Linked DNA regions of Homo sapiens. The gene in region 3 interacts genetically with the main gene of each other region. Each region holds a gene or a part of one and is shown on either strand. Other genes may lie near its edges.

Region 1 (3,651 bases), on a different chromosome or scaffold from region 3:
ATCTGTGTTGTGACATGGATCAAAATTTCCTCCCTTTTTATGGCTGAATAATATTCTACTGTAAGGTTCGAGCCCATTTTATTGAGCCACTCACCTGTTGATGTACACTGGGTTTCCAGATTTGGCTACTATGAACAGTCCTGCTATGAACGTTTACTTTCCTCTGCTTTTGTCCCCACTCCCCAGAAACCAAGACCACAGCAGAGGAGCAGAGTCCCTGGGGCAGGGGCTGTGTTGCTTTGAAAGACAGAGTAACCACGGAATAAACAGCCAATGCAGGCTGTCGCCCTACACTGCTTCCCAAACTTACTTGTACAGGATGCCTGTGGCACCTGGCTATGTTTTGAAGTCAGGCCCTTTCCAGCACAGACTCTGACTTTTTTCCCTCTTGCTTCACTCCTCCTCTGTGAGGCTGAGAGAGGCAGTAAAGATAATTAGGAAGGGCAGAGATGGACCCAAATCCTGGCCTTTCCTCTCACCAGGCAGCAGCTGTCAATACTCTTTGAGTTTCCCCTCCCTGCCTCTACCACAGGGTGCCCACCTGCTCTCTGTGGGGGGTTGTGGCTGAGACAGCAGTACCTGTCACACCGGTGGCCCCAGCAACCCAAGCCCTGGTCCCTGTTCCCTTCAGGGCTGACTGGCTTCCGCAGGGACTCACTTCACCGAACCTGTCATCTTTTTCGGCTCCGTCTCAGTGGCTACTGTATTGTACCCCCCAGCTGCTGACTTACACACTACCTGGTGGGGAGAAAGGCAACAGAACCGGCCTGAGCAGTGGGTTTTGCCAACTGAAATTTCACATGAGCTGGGTACCTGGGCACGAAGATGGAGTTGTGCAGGAAATTCTCAAAGACTTTGCGGTATTCAGCCTCCTCCTTCTCGGCCTGCTTCTCGGCTTCAGTTTTGGGGCAGGCGCAGCAAGGCCCTTTCTCCCCACCACACACCTCAGTCTTGGGGTTCTCTGTGACCTCCTCAATGTCGATGGTGCCGTCGGCATACTTCCTGATGGGGATTTTGTCTTCTCGGAAAAGAAAAGCCAAAACAAGAGTGGGAATGAAAGCCGTTATACATGCTTGTAAGGAAAAATAATAGCTCTCAGTACCTTTAATCAAGAAGATAGCTGGTCTCGGCCAGATGTGGTGGCTCAAGGCTATAATCCCAGCACTTTGGGAGGCCGAGGCGGGCAAATCACCTGAGGTTAGGAGTTTCAGACCAGCCTGGGCAACATGGTGAAACCCCGTCTCTACTAAAAATACAAAAATTAGCTGGGCATGGTGGTGCATGCCTGTAATCCCAGCTACTCGGAATGCTGGGGAATGAGAAATGCTTGAACCTGGGAGGCAGAAATTGCAGTGAGCCATGATCGTGCCACTGCACTCCAGCCTGGGCAACAGAGTGAGACTCTGTCTCAAAAAAAAAAAAAAAAAACCAGAAGATAGCTGGTTTCCAATGGAGAACTACACTGTTGTCTGATACGTGTAATATTAGGGCTCAGGCACATTACAACCACAGGAATGAACGGTCACACCCTCCGTCCAGGCCGCTGCTGCACCCTTACCTTTGGAGCAGTAATTGTGCCGGTAAAGGTAGCCGTCCTGAGGCTGCCGCTGCCAGCGCACAATGTAGTAACTCAGGTTGCCGTTGGGCAGAGAGGGAGGGTTCCACTTCACGATTAACTGAGAAGAGGAGTTCGATGCTGAAAGAACGTCCAAGGGAATGGAAGGAACTGGAGAGGGGAACAAAGAACATTCTAGAAAATGAAATGAACTTAAGAGTCAGGCTATCAGATACTCTGGCAAGCCAACAGGAAACTGCCAGTTTGACCTGGATAAGAAAATAACAATGAACAATGAAATACAAAGTGAAAAGTGAACCTTATTTTGAAATAGTACTACTATAAATGCCAACATTTCCCTTTATAATCTATTTCCTCCGGTAATCTCTGTGAAAACAAACATTACTGAGTTGTAAATGGAAAAAGGCTGCGGGGGCACAAGCAGGGTTAGAAGAGACAATGTGAAAATCTACAGCTAATTCAAACACCTGGTATTTCTCATTTATTACAACTGCCATTCTCCACAGTGCTGCACTCCGGCAATTTCGACAACTGGTAAAACAGGCTGACTTGGATTTCATCTGAGATTTTGAATCTCTGATAAAAATGTCATGAAGCCAAATGGAAAGAGGAAGTGGAAAGGGGCCTGGAGAGTCTGTGTGTGTGAAGGAGTGTGCATGCCCATGTCACAGCTGTGTGTAAGAGGGATGGGGGAGAGGCAATGCAAAGAACACGGAAGTCCACCATTTCCACAGGCATCCTTCAGTACAATGACTGAGGCATGACTCTGAAAAGCAGTTTAGAACTGCAAACGCATGGAAGCCTCATTTTGAGCAAAGGACTCTGTCACCAGCAGAATGAATGCCGATTATAGGCAAAGCATAGTTATCTGATCAAGCTTTACTTATGCTGACCCCTGAACTGAAACCCAGAGCTGAAGTGTGCATAAAGATCAAATGCATCCCAGAACCACTGAAATCTTGTCCTTATTGGGTCACAAAAAAGCATCAATGTTGATGGTTTTTCAAAGCACAGGAGACACCTTCACTGGATATCACTTAAGCAATATGTTTGCCTAAGCCATTTTTAAAACTTGAAAAGGGCGGACAGCTTGAGGGTGCTCCAGGTTATACGATACACACAAGGTTCTGAACATCTTTAAGGGATGATACTTTGGAAAAAGGTTATGACTAATACTGGCGTTTTCAGAGAAAACACAACCACTTGATGCTCAGCCACTTTAGGGTTTCCAAAAATAAGTACTTCAAAAACAAACAGCTCATTCCTAGATACATTCTTACGATAGGTGTCACCAAACAGCAGAGGCAGAGGACCAAGTTCTCGTCTGTCTCCGCTGCGTGTAAGGACAGAGGACAAAACGTAGTGAACTGACTCATTGGTACAGTGCCTGGTTTCCATCTTTGTGGAAAGGAAACAGGTTTCTTGAGAATCTGTCACAATAAGCAGATATTCCTATGTTTCCCAAACACTACAGTGAATTGCTGGCCAGGGGTTACTTCCAAATTTTAAGATGAAAAACTTCTTCTGTTGCACTGAACCTCTGCTACACCAACCCACACGCAGGATCAGAAGCCTGTGCCAATTTTGTTTCAATAAGCACTTTACCCAGTGACATGACTGTGGCCACTTACAGGGTCATGGAGATGGGGTAGGAGTGGAGGAAGGAGCAGGCGTGCACAGCAAAAGGTTTTCCCCACCAGCATTTTCTTCTCACCCTCCTCTCTGCCATTTAAACTGATTTTGTGCTCGCTTATGGGTATTTAAAAACACCTTACCCACTAAAATAATGGCTATTATCAAAGAATGTTTATCAGTGCTATAGAGTGAATGCCTGTGTCCCCTACCAAAACTCACATGTCAAAATCCTAACCCCTAAGGGGATGGAATTAGGAGGCATGGCCTTTGGGAGGTGATTGGGTCATGGGAGTGAAGCCCTCATGAATGGAATCCAGGCCCTTCTATGAGAGGCCCCGGAGAGTGCTCCCGCATCCCTGCCACCATGCAAGGACACAATGAAAAGACAGCCATCTATGAGCCAGGGAGTGGGCCCTCACCAGACACCAAATCTGCCAGCG
Region 2 (3,651 bases), on a different chromosome or scaffold from region 3:
TTTCTTCTTTTTTGGAGACGGAGTCTTACTCTGTCGCTCTGGCTGGAGTGCAGTGGCGCAATCTCGGCTCACCACAACCTCCACCTCCCGGGTTCAAGGGATTCTTAGCTTCCTGAGTAGCTGGGATTACAGGCGCCCGCCACCACACCCGACTAATTTTTGTATTTTTCGTAGAGATGGGGTTTTGCCATGTTGGCCAGGCTGGTCTTGAACTCCTGACCTCAGGTGATCTGCCTGCCTCAGCCTCCCAAAGTGCTAGGATTACAGGTGTGAGGCACCGTGCCTGGCCCCAACACTATTTCTATTAATGAGTCAGCCACTGCATATATAAGCAGATATTCCCAGCCCTGCTGCCACCTGCTGCCCCAAATCCCACACCATACCTGAAAGGAAGCATATTTGTAGACAGAGCCACCAGTGAGCTGGGGCACAACAGAGAGTGTGGCCACATCCACATACTGGTTAGGGAAGAGAAAGAGATCTACACAGCAGCCTTGGGCCACACACTCTTTGGCCAGGGTCTGATAGGCACCTGTCTGAGGCTGGAACAGAGTCTAGGGGGAAAGAAAATGGGGAGAAGAAAATGTTCAAATATCTCAGCTCCGCCCTATTTGAAAACTGTATATCTAGCATGGGATATTCAAATTCATGGAAGACTTCAGATCTACTTCCAAGGATTTTCCAATAGTAAAAAATTTTCTTTTATATTATTTTTATTTTTTTGAGACAGGGTCTCACTCTGTCACCCAGGCTGGCATAGAGTGGCATGATCTCAGCTCACTGCAACCTCTGCCTCCCAGGTTCAAGCGATTCTCCTGCCTCAGACTCCCAAGTAGCTGGGATTACAGGTGTGTGCCACCACACCTGGCTAATTTTTGTATTTTTAGTAGAGACGGGGTTTTGCCATGTTAGTCAGGCTGGTCTCAAACTTCTGGCCTCAAAAATCTGCCCGCCTTGGCCTCCCAAAGCGCTCGGATTACAGGCATGAGCCATCATGCCCGGCCAAAAGTTCTTCTTTAAAAAATAAATAAATACAAGAGTCTACCAACAGCTTTGGCATCAGATGGAGTAGAGAAGTATGGCAGCAGTGGAGGTTGGCAGTCACAGATATGGTATTTGAAAGGGTGGAGTGTCTGGTCCTAGCCACCATCAAGAAAGTAGAGTCCCCACTTCCTCTGTAATGAAAAATCCTTCCCCTCCCCCATTTTCCAGTCCCACACCTTCTCCTTGTCTGTATTGATCAGCTTCCTGTCATCTCTGTTCTTCAGTTTCCCTGGGGCCTCTGCAATGGGCAGGGATGTATGGAATAGAAAGAGCTTCCCTGCACACTCAGCAGCCTAGGAAAAAAGAGAGGACTACTTGTTTATTCTTTATTCATCCATCTCTTCCCTTGTCATTTATTAAGCACCAGCTATGTCAGACAGTCTAACACACTGGACAGTCACCCACTACTGAAGAAAGAGAGGTTGTATCCCAGGGGATAAGATGGTCAGAGGAAAATGGAGTTAGAGGAGGTTGCCCGATACTCCAGCCTTACCTTCAGAGCCTCCATTCCAGCCTGGATAACTGGTACAAATACTGTCTCTGTTTCCCTTGTGTCTGCAAACATTTCTGGAATCTGATCCAATAAGCTAAAGAGATAGGTGACGGAAAACAACCAAAATTGCTATACAGATTCCAGATACCTCAGTTCTCGATTCCCTGAAGAGTCATCAAGCCTCTAGAATCTGACAACTCCTGGGCCACAACCCCTTTCCATCTACTGTCCAATACCTCTGTTCAACTCCATGACCTTCTATGGTGGTACCCATGCCACCCCCAACCTTTACCTCCACAATCTGGCTCTTACCTGGTGATAACTGCCCGAGACTCATTGACGTTGACCAGGAAGCCATCCAGCAGTGGCACAAACATGTCAGCCACATCAGACACAACCATCATCTGTGGCTGGGCCAATGAGCTCTTCACATTATAGAAGTGGAGCACCTTATTGTAGGTGACAAAGCCAACGCGGATTGCTGACTCTTCTGCCCCACCCTCCCTGTAGAAGGTGACATTGTTACCTAGACTTGCCACCTTTTCCACCACCCACAACTTCATGACACCAAGCTACATTTCTTCAGTCAACCCAGACACCCTATCATTAACCTCAGGAAACACCTCAGTTCTGTAACTCTCACCTAGGTAGAAAGTCTAACAGTGACTTGAGCTCCTCACAGAGGAGCCTAACAAGACCAGTCCTGATGGCATTGTAGGAGACGTCAATCATGAAGATAAAGGCAGGAGGGCTGGGGAACTTATTGTTCTGCAGAGGAAGAAAATGTTGGGGAGAGGGGGAATGGTAAGCAGGCCAGTTGACTATAGAGAAGTCAGCATCAAAAAGGGACAAAAAAGGGGTGAGGGAAATGATAACAGCCATTCTCAGCTGTCTCATTATCCTCCACTCACTGCTCCTCCCATGCTACCTTCCCTCACCTTGCAGTAATCTACAGTGGCCAAGAATTCATAAGAGCCCAGGGATAGCTCAGGGCGGTCATAAGCATCCACACGTTTGCCGGTATGATCCAGGTGCTGAAAATACTGGGGGGGAACTGTGGGAAGCATGGCAGTGTGTTACTCGAAGATCCAGTTTCAATCTTAGTATTCTGGCCCTAGCTGAGCTCACACCACTATCCCTCATTCCCATGTGCCCTACTTCCCCAGCTCCTGAAAGATGGACCCTCATCTCTCTAACTATTTAATAGAGAACAAGGAAGATACAATCAAGACCTTCCCCCAAATCCCAGCTTCCATGAACATACCATCATTGATACAGCTGCAAAAACAGCACTGGAAACGCCTCCCTCCTTCAATGAACTGCATGAAGGGACACATGTATGCTTTGCAGCGGTTGCAGCGCAAAGGGCCAGATTCCCCATGGTCCACAACATACGGTGAAGCCTAAGGCGCAAAGGGGAAGGGATCAGACATAAAGGAAAACCACAGTAGGTTCAGCCAGGAGATGAGGAAGAACAACCGGAGGAAGAAGGCGCATGGCGCAGATATTCTGTCTGCAGAGGGAGTAGGGAGCACAATGATGAAAGGGAGTAAAGACAAATCACAGGAAAATGTCCCTATGAGTAAAAATTATATAGTTCCCTCTTCCTACATCCCACCCCCAGAGCTGCATTTCTCACTGAAAGAGAAGAGGAAATGCAAAACCGGCCATATCAGACTAGGGGCTGCCATGGGCATATGAGGGAGAAAGCCAAGATTATCTAGGATTCTCCTTTCTGGCCCCATCTCTAATGCCCTTCACTCTTGCTCTAAGAATCTTGATTCCAGCTCCTTCCCTAACCAAATATCTGTAACACCTCCTCCCGTATCCCTGGGATTCTGTGCCAGTTACTGATGCCCCAGGCAAATGTCACCCTACACATAAGAGACCAGTGCCCAACTATCCCCAATGGGACCCAGATAGAAATAGACAAACACACAGAGAAAGACGGAGAGATAAGCAGAATATAAACTGAGCCTTTGGCTTCTAGTAACAGAGAACCCTATCGTAAGATAAGCAAGGCTGAATATGAGTATCCTACCAAGGCCTGGTGGAGCAGCTGCCTGGCTCGCTCTCTTCATGCTGGTATCAGGTACTGGGGTGACAGATCAGGT
Region 3 (3,651 bases):
TATGGGAATATTTCAAATAACTTATCCTGAAAAACGTAGCATTTTTAAGAAATTCTATAGGAAATCCTTTATAAAACAAAAGCTTTTTTAAAAAATAAAAAAGCAATATGAATTTTCATATGTAGTATTTATTATTACATGATTGGACAAAATGATTTGGATATGCTAACATAGCCTGGGATTTTCCTACTAAAATGTACTGTTATAACCTTTTTTTTAATTTGGCTTTATTTCCTTAGAACACTATCTGTCCATACACTGGGGCCTACTGGAGGGTAGAGGGTGGGAGGAGTAAGAAGATCAGGAAAAATAACTAACAGATACTAGACTTAAAATAAAACAGGACCTGTCAACCTAAGTAACAGAGAGGCTCTCTAAAATAAAAGATGTTTATATGGAAATAATGCACTGCAATGAGAATGTACATGCCAAAGTAAACTATGTGTGTTCTCCGAGACGTAAAGGAAAGACAGAGGTTTTTAAAGAAAAAAATGAGAAGGATTACATAATTGTTTTGAAATAAGATTGGCCACAAAATCAGTAACAAGGGTGATGCCAGTCTCAGGATGGAGAGGCACTTACTGCCAGTATTTTCTGTGTAAGGCTGTGATGGCCTTTGTGCAAGGTTGTGGTTGTGTTTTTTTGTGAGTTTTTATTATCAGACATACAAGCATGTGGACTCTCTTCTCATGGTTTTTCCTATTTGTCAGGGTTTTCTTGACATTAGTGACTCCATCTTAATTCTGACAAATTGCACAGACTCAAGAAACATTTGCTTCACTTACCTTTACTTACTGACAGGAGAAGATTTGGATCTCTTGGATGGAATTTCAGCTCATTGATAGCATTTCCATGGCCAACATAGTGCTACAATAAATTTAAAACATTTCAAGTTTCCTATCTCAAAATCAGTAAATTTTTTTTCATAAATCTTTAGAGAATGTAAAAATAGTTTCACTTAAAGTAGTGGTTCTCAACCTTGGCTGCATACTAAAATCACCCAACAAACTTGAGGTGAAAAGGAAAAAAAAAAAAAAAAAAGACCCCAGGCACAGTGGGTGGCTCATGTTTTTAATCCAAGCACTTTGGAAAGCTAAGGCAGAATCGCTTGAGGTCAGGAGTTCAAGACCAGTCAGAGCAATGCAGCAAGACCCTATCTTCATACACACACACACACACACACACACACACACACAAATTAAAAATTGGCCCCAGCTACTTGAGAGGCTGAGGCAGGAGGATCGCTTGAGCCCAGGAGACGGGCTGCAGTGAGCTATAATCATGCTACTACATTCCAGCCCGGGCAAAGGAGTCAGAATCTGTCTCAGAACAAAAAAAAAAAAAGATGCTCAAAACTCCACCTGCAGATATTCTGATCGGATTAGCGGAGGCTCCAATATGCGTAGGGTTTTAAGCATCCTCAGGAGAGTGTGATGTAGCCCAACAGTTAAAAACAGGTGATGAAAGTGATTTGAAAAACCCGTCTTCTTATCAACTTCCTAGGCTTCACCTTTATGTTCGTTACAAGGTCCCTTTGATAACACCCCTCCAGTTTAGGTGTCTTGGAAAATGGACTCCCTCTTATTGTTCATTTAGAGCCTCTCAAAGTAAACCATGACAAGGGTGAAAGAGGGAAATGATTTAAAAAGAAAGCACTACAAATATTAACATTTTCCCACTTATTCCTTAATTTACATTACCCAAATGTGACAAACGTCTCAAAAGACTCATCCAAAGAGAGCAGTAAGAAAAGTACAAATCAAATGAGAAATGTTACATTCATACCATTAGTTTTAAATTTAACATTACAAGTTTTTACAGTTGTGGATTCAAAAGAAGCAGATCTACAATTTAACCAGAAAAACCCACCTTTATACACTGCATTGTTATAGGATTTATTATCCTAATTATGCCTCTAGATCCAGCTACAGCCAGCAGAGGATGGCTCGTATTGCTATCATAGGTCCATGCACAAGTGTAAAAGTTTTCATCAGCCTAAGAAATTCCACAGTTAAGAAACATAATGTTTTTGAAAAAGAAACATGTCAATAATTATAATAGAAACTTATAAAGAACTGCTAAAGTTTTTGACACCAAAGTTCTCAATTTTCCTTATACAACCAAATATATACAATGGTGATTTGAGGTCTAAAATCCATAACAAATGATCAAACAAAATTACAGTCTCTCCACTCAATTTTGTTTACTCTTTAGCTGCTTGTACAACTACTCAACTCTGTAGTTGCAGTACCAAAATAACTGCAGAAAATATACAAATGAATGGGCATGGTTGTGTTCAAAACAAAACTTTACAAAAACAGGTGACCAACCTGCACGCTGTAGTTTAACCTCTGCTCTATCCCCATACCTCTATAAATATCTAAAAAAGAACAATTCAGTTTTCCACTTTTTTCTTTGTGAGACAGTCTCAATACAACAACAGGTCACATTTCAATATCTTTTAGAGAAGACTGAATGTCCTTGCCTTGTCTTGTTTGCTAGGTTTTTCAAATGGATCTGGAAGAAATATCTTATTACTTAGCTTTTACCGCTCTAACTCGGGCTTTTCAAATTTTTCTGTTTCTTTATGAACCTGTTTTGCAATTTTTATTTCCTATTTTATTTTATTTTTATATATTTTATTTTTCCTAAACTTTTTTTTTCTTCCTAGGCTTCGTTGATCAAATACTTAGAATGACTACCAGTCACAAGCCAAGTTCATCATTATAACTACAATGAAATGATATATTCTAGGCAAGGTCAAAGAAAAAGGAGGTTTTAATCAGTCTTTGCTAATATTTTCTATTACTAGATTTCTAATGCTCCTATCTCTATAGACATCTGCACCCAACCAGCACATCCATCCCACAATGGATTCTTTTCTTTTTCTTTTTGCCTAGCTGAGTTGACACATACCACAATGGATTTCTAAGGGTCAGGAAAACTAGATACAGGATTCTCTTGGGTGATAGTGAAGAAATCGGTTAAGAAAGAACAATAACTTTAGGGAAATGATTAATTTATAAAAGTTTTGGTGCACTTATTGAAAATAAATTCCTTTGACTAAAGATATTAAAAACCCAGGAAAGGATACATCAGCATCCACGTAAGATTGCAACAACCGGATTTCTCCTTGTGAATGACATTCATACAAGGTAACCTAATGAAAATAAAAATACAGTAAATTTCATCTCAAGTATAGAAAACATACTCTCTCCAACTTTTAAACATATTTTAATCGCAATCCTATCTTAAATATACTACAGAAACTACTGCCTTAAAATACCTCCTGTGAGCTTAAAGAAGCCATTATAAAGCTGAATGTTTTACATAATACACAGAGCATATTAAATATTGCAGTAATAGTCGTTTCGATTTCCAATCTTTTAAACTTATATTTCATCCATTCAATTGCCTAGGCAACATAGCAAAACCCCATCTCTATTAAAAAATAAATATTAGGCCGGGCACGGTGGCTCACGCCTGTAATCCCAGCATTTTGGGAGGCCAAGGCATGCGGATCATGAGGTCAAGAGATCAAGACCATCCTGGCCAATATGGTGAAACCCTGTCTCTACCAAAAATACAAAAATTAGCTGAGCGTGGTGGCACATGCCCGTAATCCCAGCTACTCAGGAGGCTGAGGCTGGT

What was found.
Region 1: changes in EED (region 3) and IGF1R together harm fitness less than expected from each alone (positive genetic interaction), as found in Homo sapiens cells (one large-scale study listed by BioGRID).
Region 2: changes in EED (region 3) and SEC24C together harm fitness less than expected from each alone (positive genetic interaction), as found in Homo sapiens cells (one large-scale study listed by BioGRID).

Annotation. Positions count from the first base shown.
Region 1 is NC_000015.10:98,914,039-98,917,689, reverse strand, and holds part of IGF1R (insulin-like growth factor 1 receptor isoform 1 precursor), read right to left. Parts: intron 1,727-3,651; coding exon 1,559-1,726; intron 1,019-1,558; coding exon 814-1,018; intron 1-813. UniProt on the Homo sapiens protein: Receptor tyrosine kinase which mediates actions of insulin-like growth factor 1 (IGF1). Binds IGF1 with high affinity and IGF2 and insulin (INS) with a lower affinity. The activated IGF1R is involved in cell growth and survival control.
Region 2 is NC_000010.11:73,764,740-73,768,390, reverse strand, and holds part of SEC24C (protein transport protein Sec24C), read right to left. Parts: intron 2,941-3,651; coding exon 2,802-2,940; intron 2,592-2,801; coding exon 2,476-2,591; intron 2,306-2,475; coding exon 2,181-2,305; intron 2,042-2,180; coding exon 1,850-2,041; intron 1,632-1,849; coding exon 1,538-1,631; intron 1,338-1,537; coding exon 1,221-1,337; intron 555-1,220; coding exon 384-554; intron 1-383. UniProt on the Homo sapiens protein: Component of the coat protein complex II (COPII) which promotes the formation of transport vesicles from the endoplasmic reticulum (ER).
Region 3 is NC_000011.10:86,254,731-86,258,381, reverse strand, and holds part of EED (polycomb protein EED), read right to left. Parts: intron 3,161-3,651; coding exon 3,095-3,160; intron 1,996-3,094; coding exon 1,870-1,995; intron 868-1,869; coding exon 786-867; intron 1-785. UniProt on the Homo sapiens protein: Polycomb group (PcG) protein. Component of the PRC2/EED-EZH2 complex, which methylates 'Lys-9' and 'Lys-27' of histone H3, leading to transcriptional repression of the affected target gene.